Linked DNA regions of Homo sapiens. Each later gene encodes a partner of the first gene's protein in a complex. Each region holds a gene or a part of one and is shown on either strand. Other genes may lie near its edges.

Evidence for each region.
Region 2: SUPT16H (region 1) and SSRP1 share a complex: the UniProt entries of both Homo sapiens proteins name them as parts of the FACT complex.

What each region holds. Positions count from the first base shown.
Region 1 is NC_000014.9:21,356,194-21,360,107, forward strand, and holds part of SUPT16H (FACT complex subunit SPT16), read right to left. Parts: intron 3,417-3,914; coding exon 3,291-3,416; intron 2,235-3,290; coding exon 2,122-2,234; intron 1,810-2,121; coding exon 1,734-1,809; intron 1,174-1,733; coding exon 1,004-1,173; intron 1-1,003. UniProt on the Homo sapiens protein: Component of the FACT complex, a general chromatin factor that acts to reorganize nucleosomes. The FACT complex is involved in multiple processes that require DNA as a template such as mRNA elongation, DNA replication and DNA repair.
Region 2 is NC_000011.10:57,334,062-57,337,975, reverse strand, and holds the start of SSRP1 (FACT complex subunit SSRP1), read left to right. Parts: upstream 1-2,083; 5' UTR 2,084-2,246; exon of another isoform or gene 2,247-2,356; coding exon of another isoform or gene 2,357-2,854; coding exon 2,855-2,908; intron 2,909-3,327; coding exon 3,328-3,513; intron 3,514-3,914. UniProt on the Homo sapiens protein: Component of the FACT complex, a general chromatin factor that acts to reorganize nucleosomes. The FACT complex is involved in multiple processes that require DNA as a template such as mRNA elongation, DNA replication and DNA repair.

The DNA.
Region 1 (3,914 bases):
AGAGATCTGCAGAGGGGTCCCCTCAAGTCTTTGGTGGAGGGATGATCTACACATTCATGAGAAAACTGGAACTGCATAAAGAAGCACTGGAAAGCAGTAGGACAGACAACTCCCAATCTCACACAGAACTAGAAATAAATCGTGTTCCAGTGGATTTATTTCCACCACCTTTCCACCAGCTTCAGCAGAGAGATCTCACAATCCACAGGGCATCAGGCAGACTCTGAAGAGTATTGCCTCGTAGTAAGGCCAATTACTTGGAAGTTTTTGAGTGAAACTTTTAAAGGCTGTTCTAAATCCACACTAATAGACATTTGAGAACAAGCCTTGAAAGATCAAACAGAATCCAACTAACTTGACTGCATCCTAGAATAACCTCATCTCTAGTAAAAAAAAATTAGCTGGGTGTGGTAGCACATGCCTGTAGTCCCAGCTACTTGGGATGCTGATGCAGGAAGGTTGCCTGAATCCAAGAGTTTGAGGCTGCAGTGAGCTGTGACTGCACCACTACACTTGAGCCTGGGCAACACAGTGAGACCCTGTCTCAAACAACCACCACCACCACCACTACAAAATATGTAGAAAATATAAAGATAATGGGTGAAGAGCAGAAAAGGATGCTTCAAAAGCTATTGTAAATATGCTCTACATTGACTGGGTGCAGTGGCTTGTGCCTGTAATCCTGGTACGTTGGGAGACCGACGTGGGAGGATCGCTTGAGCCCAGGAGTTTGAGACCAGCCTGGGCAACACTGAAAACAAAAAAGATCTTAGATTTTGATTTTCTTTGTGTTAAGTATGCACAAGCTATTGTTGGGAATTCAAGAAAAAGTGAACAGCTCCGTTATCTAATAGATCTCAAGTTTTCAAGTCCTGGTCTGTAACAACCAAAAGGCAGTCTCACTTTAAGTATATCAGTAGATTTTATGCACAACATACCACATTCAAATTCTATAAAACAGGGCTCATGGGCTAAATGGGAGACTGATGGCAGATTTACTTACTTCAACCATTCCTTGATGGGGTCAAGAGAGGCTACAGGAATGGCGTTGATCATGGTCACTTTCTTGCTGTAGTCCTTGTAGACGATTACCATATCAAAGTTCTTCAGGTGAAACTGGACCCGCTCAAAGTGGATCAGCTCTACCTCATCCAATGTCACCACAAAAGGTGGCTGTCAGGGAGAAACTGAATCATTAGCATATAAGTATTTCCCCCAAAGCAATAATATTTCAAATAACTTTCATGATCTAAATCACTACATAAAAGATAACTTAAGCTGTTTTTTGGTTTTTTTTTTGAAAGACTGAGGCAGTACAACATACTAAGAAGCCACAGAAAAAGGATCTGCAAGATACAAAAATCATCCCTCAAGGAGAATAAACTCAAGGAAACTATGTGAAGGAACCATTTAAAATAAACTATTTAAAAAGACATTATCTTAAAAAATAAAAAATAAAAAAAAGAGAGATAGGTTCTTGCTATGTTGCCCAGACTGGTCTTGAGTTCCTGGCCTCAAGTGTTCCTCCCACCTTGGCCTCTAATTGTGCTGGGATTACAGGTGTGAGCCATTATGCCTGCCCTAAAGAGACTTTAAAAGTAACATTTGTTCAATGAGTTTTAAGTCTAAGTAAATATCAAAAATGAAAATGACAATAATTAGGATAAAAAACACCTATCCTTCTTTATTTTCTCTAACAATTTTCTTACTAAAAGAAAGTAAGAAACACTCACCCATTCCGTAGCATTTACCAGCGCACTACTAGTGGGCTGAAGGAGGCAGGTACTCCTATAGGGAGCTCCGTTAAATCTGGAAGAGACAAACTTTTAAGACTGAGCTCATCACGAGAGAGACTGCTCCTACCACAACAGACAAACTTCTTCCCTCTCCCCATTCCAAACAGCTCCAGCATACTCACTGGAGACTCATCCAGAGGAAGCCTCTTAAGAGTTAGCCACTCACCTAAACCCTTAAACATTTTCAAGAAAAAATGGATGTCTCAAAGATTATTAGTCATAGGAAAAAAGGATATGATATGTTAAATTATTATTAAAGGAAGAATAATTTATTGTACCAAAAGACAGACCAGTCAAACTTCAAGCCAAAAATAAGATAGGTTACCCCAAGTCCCTAAAAGGCACTTCAAATTCCAGTTCCTCCTTAGTTAGAGCCTCTACTTTCTCAATGAAATTTTTAAAGGCTGTTTTCAGTTTGTGCCTCATTTCTCGTTCCATCTGTAGAAGAAAAAAATATCAAATACAGCCATCACATTTGTTAACAGTACCTCCCCTCAAAAAGTCTGAAGTGCTTTTGTGCTTTAAAATAAAAATTCCAACTTTTAAGTTCAGGAGTGCATGGGCAGGATTTGCAGGTTTGTTACACAGGTAAACGTGTGCCATGGTGGTTTGCTGCACAGATCATCCCTGAAGTGCTTTCGTTGCCCTTCATTCTCTCGTAACTATAAAACTAACATGTACATACACCTTTAATATTTAAGGTCACCATGCCATTACCTGTCAAGCTGAGTCTGCAACCTAAGCCTAAACTCTTGTAATACCCTATCTCAGCAGATACTTGAGTTGCTCTGCACAAACAGATTCAGGGTTGTTTATTTATTTATTTATTTATTTTTGGAGATGGAGTCTTGCTAGTCGCCCAGGCTGGAGTGCGGTGGCGCGATCTTGGCCCACAACCTCTGCCTCCCAGGTTCATGCCATTCTCCCGCCTCAGCCTCCCGAGTAGCTGGGACTACAGGAGCCCGCCACTACACCCGGCTAATTTTTTTGTATTTTTAGTAGAGACAGCGTTTCACTGTGTTAGCCAGGATGGTCTTGATCTCCTGACCTCGTGATCTGCCTGTGTTGGCCTCCCAAAGTGCTGGGATTATAGGCGTGAGCCACTGCACCTGGCTATTTATTTATTGAGATGGAGTCTCACTCTGTCGCCCAGGCTGGAGTGCAGTGGCGCTATCTCAGCTCACTGCAACCTCTGCCTCTTGGGTTCAAGTGATTATCCTGCCTTAGCCTCCCGACTAGCTGGGACTACCACCACCCACCACGCCCAGCTAATTTATGTATTTTTAGTACAGACAGGGTTTCACCACATTGGCCAGGCTGGTCTCGAACTCCTGACCCTCAGGTGATCTGCCCATGTTGGCCTCCCAAAGTGCTGGGATTACAGGCGCGAGTCACCACGCCAGCCCAGTTTGTTTATAAAATACAATCCCTGAGCTTGGATTTGGCCTCATCCTCCCTCACTATCCTGCAAATACAATACTAAATTTCACAAACCTGCTCAGCATAGAGGTCATCTCGGTCATGCATATGCTGATGTTTCCCCAAGTCCGTGGTTATCTCTCCCACTTCTGTGTAGAACTGCACATCCGTGTGCCGCTTCTTCCCAAACATGATGGCATTCTGTCGGCATAAAACAGAAAGAACACAGAAGTCAGAAACACAAAGGTATCTGTGATGGAAATGGCAGTGATCCAAACTTGGGCCTCCACAGCATGCATGCAAAAATAATTAAACCACCCCTGGTGTCATCATAAATAATGATGCTTGGGAATGGAAACAGTGTACATTTGAAAAAGTGCTGTGCTCCTACTTATTACAGGAACTTTGGAAATCATGTTGGTAACAAATCTTATCTAAAGCAAAACTTCATTTTAGAAAGAGAAATCTGGAGATCTCGTATAAAACATTTGCTGGCCACCATATAACACACCAAAGGAACAAACATGCTTATGAGCCCCTTCTAGATGCCAGGCCTTGTGGCCTTTAGAGGCATTATTTTATTTAATCCTCTTAAATGTTCTTAAGTGAGAGGTGATTTTTTCATCACTTTTTTGTTTTTTGTTTTTCACACGCTGTCGCCCAGGCTGGAGTACAATGGCGCGATCTCGGCTCACTGCA
Region 2 (3,914 bases), on another chromosome or scaffold:
TCTCTTGAAAGTTTTTCTGGGTCTTCTGGGGTGTGATGAGTAAAGAGTCACATATTTCTAACTCCAGCTGGTAATGAGCTTCGCTCTACCTGTAGCATAGCAGTTAGCACGTCTTTTTTGTTTTGTTTTCTTTTTATTATTATTCTTATACTCTAAGTTCTATGGTAAACCTGCACAACGTGCAGGTTTGTTACATATGTATACGTGTGCCATGTTGGTGTGTTGCACCCGTTAACTGTAAATATACCCGTCATTTACATTAGGTATATCTCCTAATGCTATCCCTCCCCACTCCGCCCACCCCGCGACAGGCCCTGGTGTGTGTGATGTTCCCCACCCTGTGTCCAAGTGTTCTCATTGTTCAATTCCCACCTATGAGTGAGAATATGCGGTGTTTGGTTTTCTGTCCTTGTGATAATTTGCTCAGAATGATGGAGTCCAGCTTCATCCATGTCCCTGCAAAGGACATGAACTCATCCTGTTTTACAGCTGCATAGTATTCCACGGTGTATATGTGCCAACTTCTTTTTTTTTTAACTGTCACTTTATTTATTAAAGTCATTTGTTAGATTATGTTTTCCTGAAAGGTTGGGGCTGGGTTTTTTTTTCTGTTTTTTTTTTTTTTCTTTCTTTCCTTCCCTTCCTTTTTTTTTTCTTTTTCTTTCTTTCTTTTTTTTTTTTTTTTTGACAGAGTCTCGCTCTGTCACCCGGGCTGGAGTGCAGTGGCACAATCTCAGCTCACTGCAACCTCTGCCTCCTGGGTTCAAGCAATTCTCATGCCTCAGCCTCCTGAGTAGCTGGGATTATAGGCACCCGCCACCACGCCTGGCTAATTTTTGTATTTTTAATAGAGACGGGGCTTCACCACGTTGGCCAGTCTGGTCTCAAACTCCTGACCTCAAGTGATCTCCCTGCCTTGGCCTCCCCAAGTGCTAGGATTACAGGTGTGAGCCACCGTGCCTGGCCGGGGATGTTTTCACCTTGTTCAAGTTTCCTCAAATCTGAGAAGTGTGCTAAAGTAGTAATAGGCCCTCAATATCTATTTATTAAACCCAGTTGAATTTATTTTGCTAGATAATGCTGGAATAGCCACTACTCAGAGGTTAAAGCTATGAGTTCAGGGGAGAAGGGTGCATTCCTGTTGTCTCTTACCCCAGGATTGATTTAGCAAGCTGGTGTATTGATTGTCAGGGAAATCTTGAGCTTACATATTCTGTACTAATGTCTTCATGTAGGACACATATCAATAGTCATTCTGAACATACAGTCACTGTGATTATGACAGAAGATAACTGGACTGGTGGTGTTAAGGAGGTCTGGGTCCTACCTAGCCTTGTTGCCAACGCACTGAGACCCTGGGCAACTCACTCCCCTTTGGGTCTCAGTTTTCCCATCAGTAAAAGGAGGTTGGGGTAGAAAAACTAAAACATCTTTTCCAGGTCTGGTCTCTGATGTTGCAAAATGCACTCTGGGATTATACGGGGGAGACCTGGCTTCCGCAACCACAGGATGATGTGGTTTCAAATCAGTTCTGGCTCCAAGGTGAATCTGACACCAGGACTTGAACTGGATAAGGCCGTTTGCCAGCCTCTTGGAGGTACCTATAATTTTCGGTTAAGGATGTGAAAATTTTGGGTGTAGACAGTGAACTTGACAGTTCAGCCAGAAAGCAGTGCACCCACGATGACACCAACACCCGCATACTCTCCGCAGCCAGTGGGAGAGGTCGTTTCCTCCCACAACTGTTCAAATACTTCTCTTCTTGTCCCATCGACTCCTTTCCATGACATAGAAACTATTTTGCAGAGAAACGGGCACGCATCATTCCAATACACACCCCCACCCCACCCCTGTACTAAGTCTGATACAATAAAACTACACAATTTCTCTTTAGTATCTAGTCTCGACTGAAGAAGTGTCTGTAGTTTCTAAAGAGCCCTACACACATTTTCTAGGCCGGATTCCCCCTGGGTGAGAGAGGCTTCACGGCAACCACCCTTCCCTCAGGTCCTCCAGAGTCGCTGACGCTCTATGCGACTGTCTCGCAGGCGGGCCCGACTCGCGTCTCTCTAGCCAGCTCATCCTCTCTGTGGCCTGTGTACGGCTTCCGGTGGCGGGACGCGGGGCCGCGCACGCGGGAAAAGCTTCCCCGGTGTCCCCCCATCCCCCTCCCCGCGCCCCCCCCGCGTCCCCCCAGCGCGCCCACCTCTCGCGCCGGGGCCCTCGCGAGGCCGCAGCCTGAGGAGGTAGGTGGTGGTCGTCCCCGGTCCCAGGAAGGCAGGGGCCCCGCTCCCCCACGGGACCCTCGACATGGACCATTCCGCGTTCGCAACCGCGGGGAGCGGGCGAATCCATTATGTGGGGCGGGGGTGAACCGTGGGTCTGGGGCCGCGGGGTGGTGGGAGCGGTGCGAGGGAAACCCTGCACTCTGAGCTGGATTGGGTCGCGTGCGATGTGCGGGCTCCTGGCAGACCCTGGGGTTCCGCTGCTCGTTGCCATGGCTCCCGCCGGAGCGGCCAGAGCGGGCGTCGGGTTGGGTGTCAGCGGTATTCCGGGCCCGGTTCTCCACCCAGGCCTGGACCTGGACCCTCGGGCACTGCAGCGTCCGTCTGTAGGTTTCCAGGCAGAGGAAATCCTGAGACATCCAGGCGCAGCTGGGAGTTGCTACCTGGCTCCATCCGTGAGCACAGCGAGGTGCTGTCTTTCATGCTTATCTGTCTTCCTCTTGAATTCAGATTCCCAACCTGCTGAGCATCCGCACACCCACTCAGGAGTTGGGGCCCAGCTCCCAGTTTACTTGGTTTCCCTTGTGCAGCCTGGGGCTCTGCCCAGGCCACCACAGGCAGGGGTCGACATGGCAGAGACACTGGAGTTCAACGACGTCTATCAGGAGGTGAAAGGTTCCATGGTGAGAATGGCTTGGACAGGTGATACAAGTAGAGAGAAGGAAGGAGGGTAGAGTTTTTGTCCATTAATGAGAGCTTGCTTTGGTAACGTTATTTTGGAAAAAGAAGACTCAGTATAATGTGTACCTAGTGTCTCCACCAACTCAAGGCAATACTGAGAGATAGTCTCAGAGTTATAGGGACCGTATATGCTGTTCAGTTCCCAATTCCTGTTTTACAAATGAGGAAACTGAGAATCTGTTAAGGGTTCTAGATACCAGAGTCTGGTTTAGAATCTAGACTCCTTGGCACCCTCAGCTGTTGCTCCTGCATTGATAATCTGGCCAGTCCACTTGCAGCAGGAATGTGTGTTAGGTAGAGCTGTAGAACCCAGGACATGCTGTGTACTGTCTCCATGCATCTGGGCCTGCTTTTCTTACAGAATGATGGTCGACTGAGGTTGAGCCGTCAGGGCATCATCTTCAAGAATAGCAAGACAGGCAAAGTGGACAACATCCAGGCTGGGGAGTTAACAGAAGGTATCTGGCGCCGTGTTGCTCTGGGCCATGGACTTAAACTGCTTACAAAGAATGGCCATGTCTACAAGTATGATGGCTTCCGAGAATCGGTGAGATGTCCCATGGCTATAAGCCTCCTTTTTACTGCATCTTCTTATTTTAATCTTCTAGAGACTCGAGGTTCCTTCCTCATGTAACCCTGTGATTGCTAGTTTGGGCTCCTTAGAGCAGGGCTGTGAGGCCATCAGGCAATCAGTGTTTGGCTTTGAGCGTTGAAGTCTTGTGAATTTCTGTGTGCCTTGACTCCAGAAGATTTTCTTCTGTCTTGATTTAGATAGTAGTTTCTGCCTGTGGCTTTTATCAAGGTTCAGAATCTTAGCTTGATTTCTTTGTGTGTATGTGTGTTTTTGGTTTTTTTTGGGGACAGGGCCTTGCTCTGTCACCCAGGCTGGAGTGCAGTGGCGCAATCTCGGATTACTGCAGCCTCCGCCTCCTGGGCTCAAGTAATCCT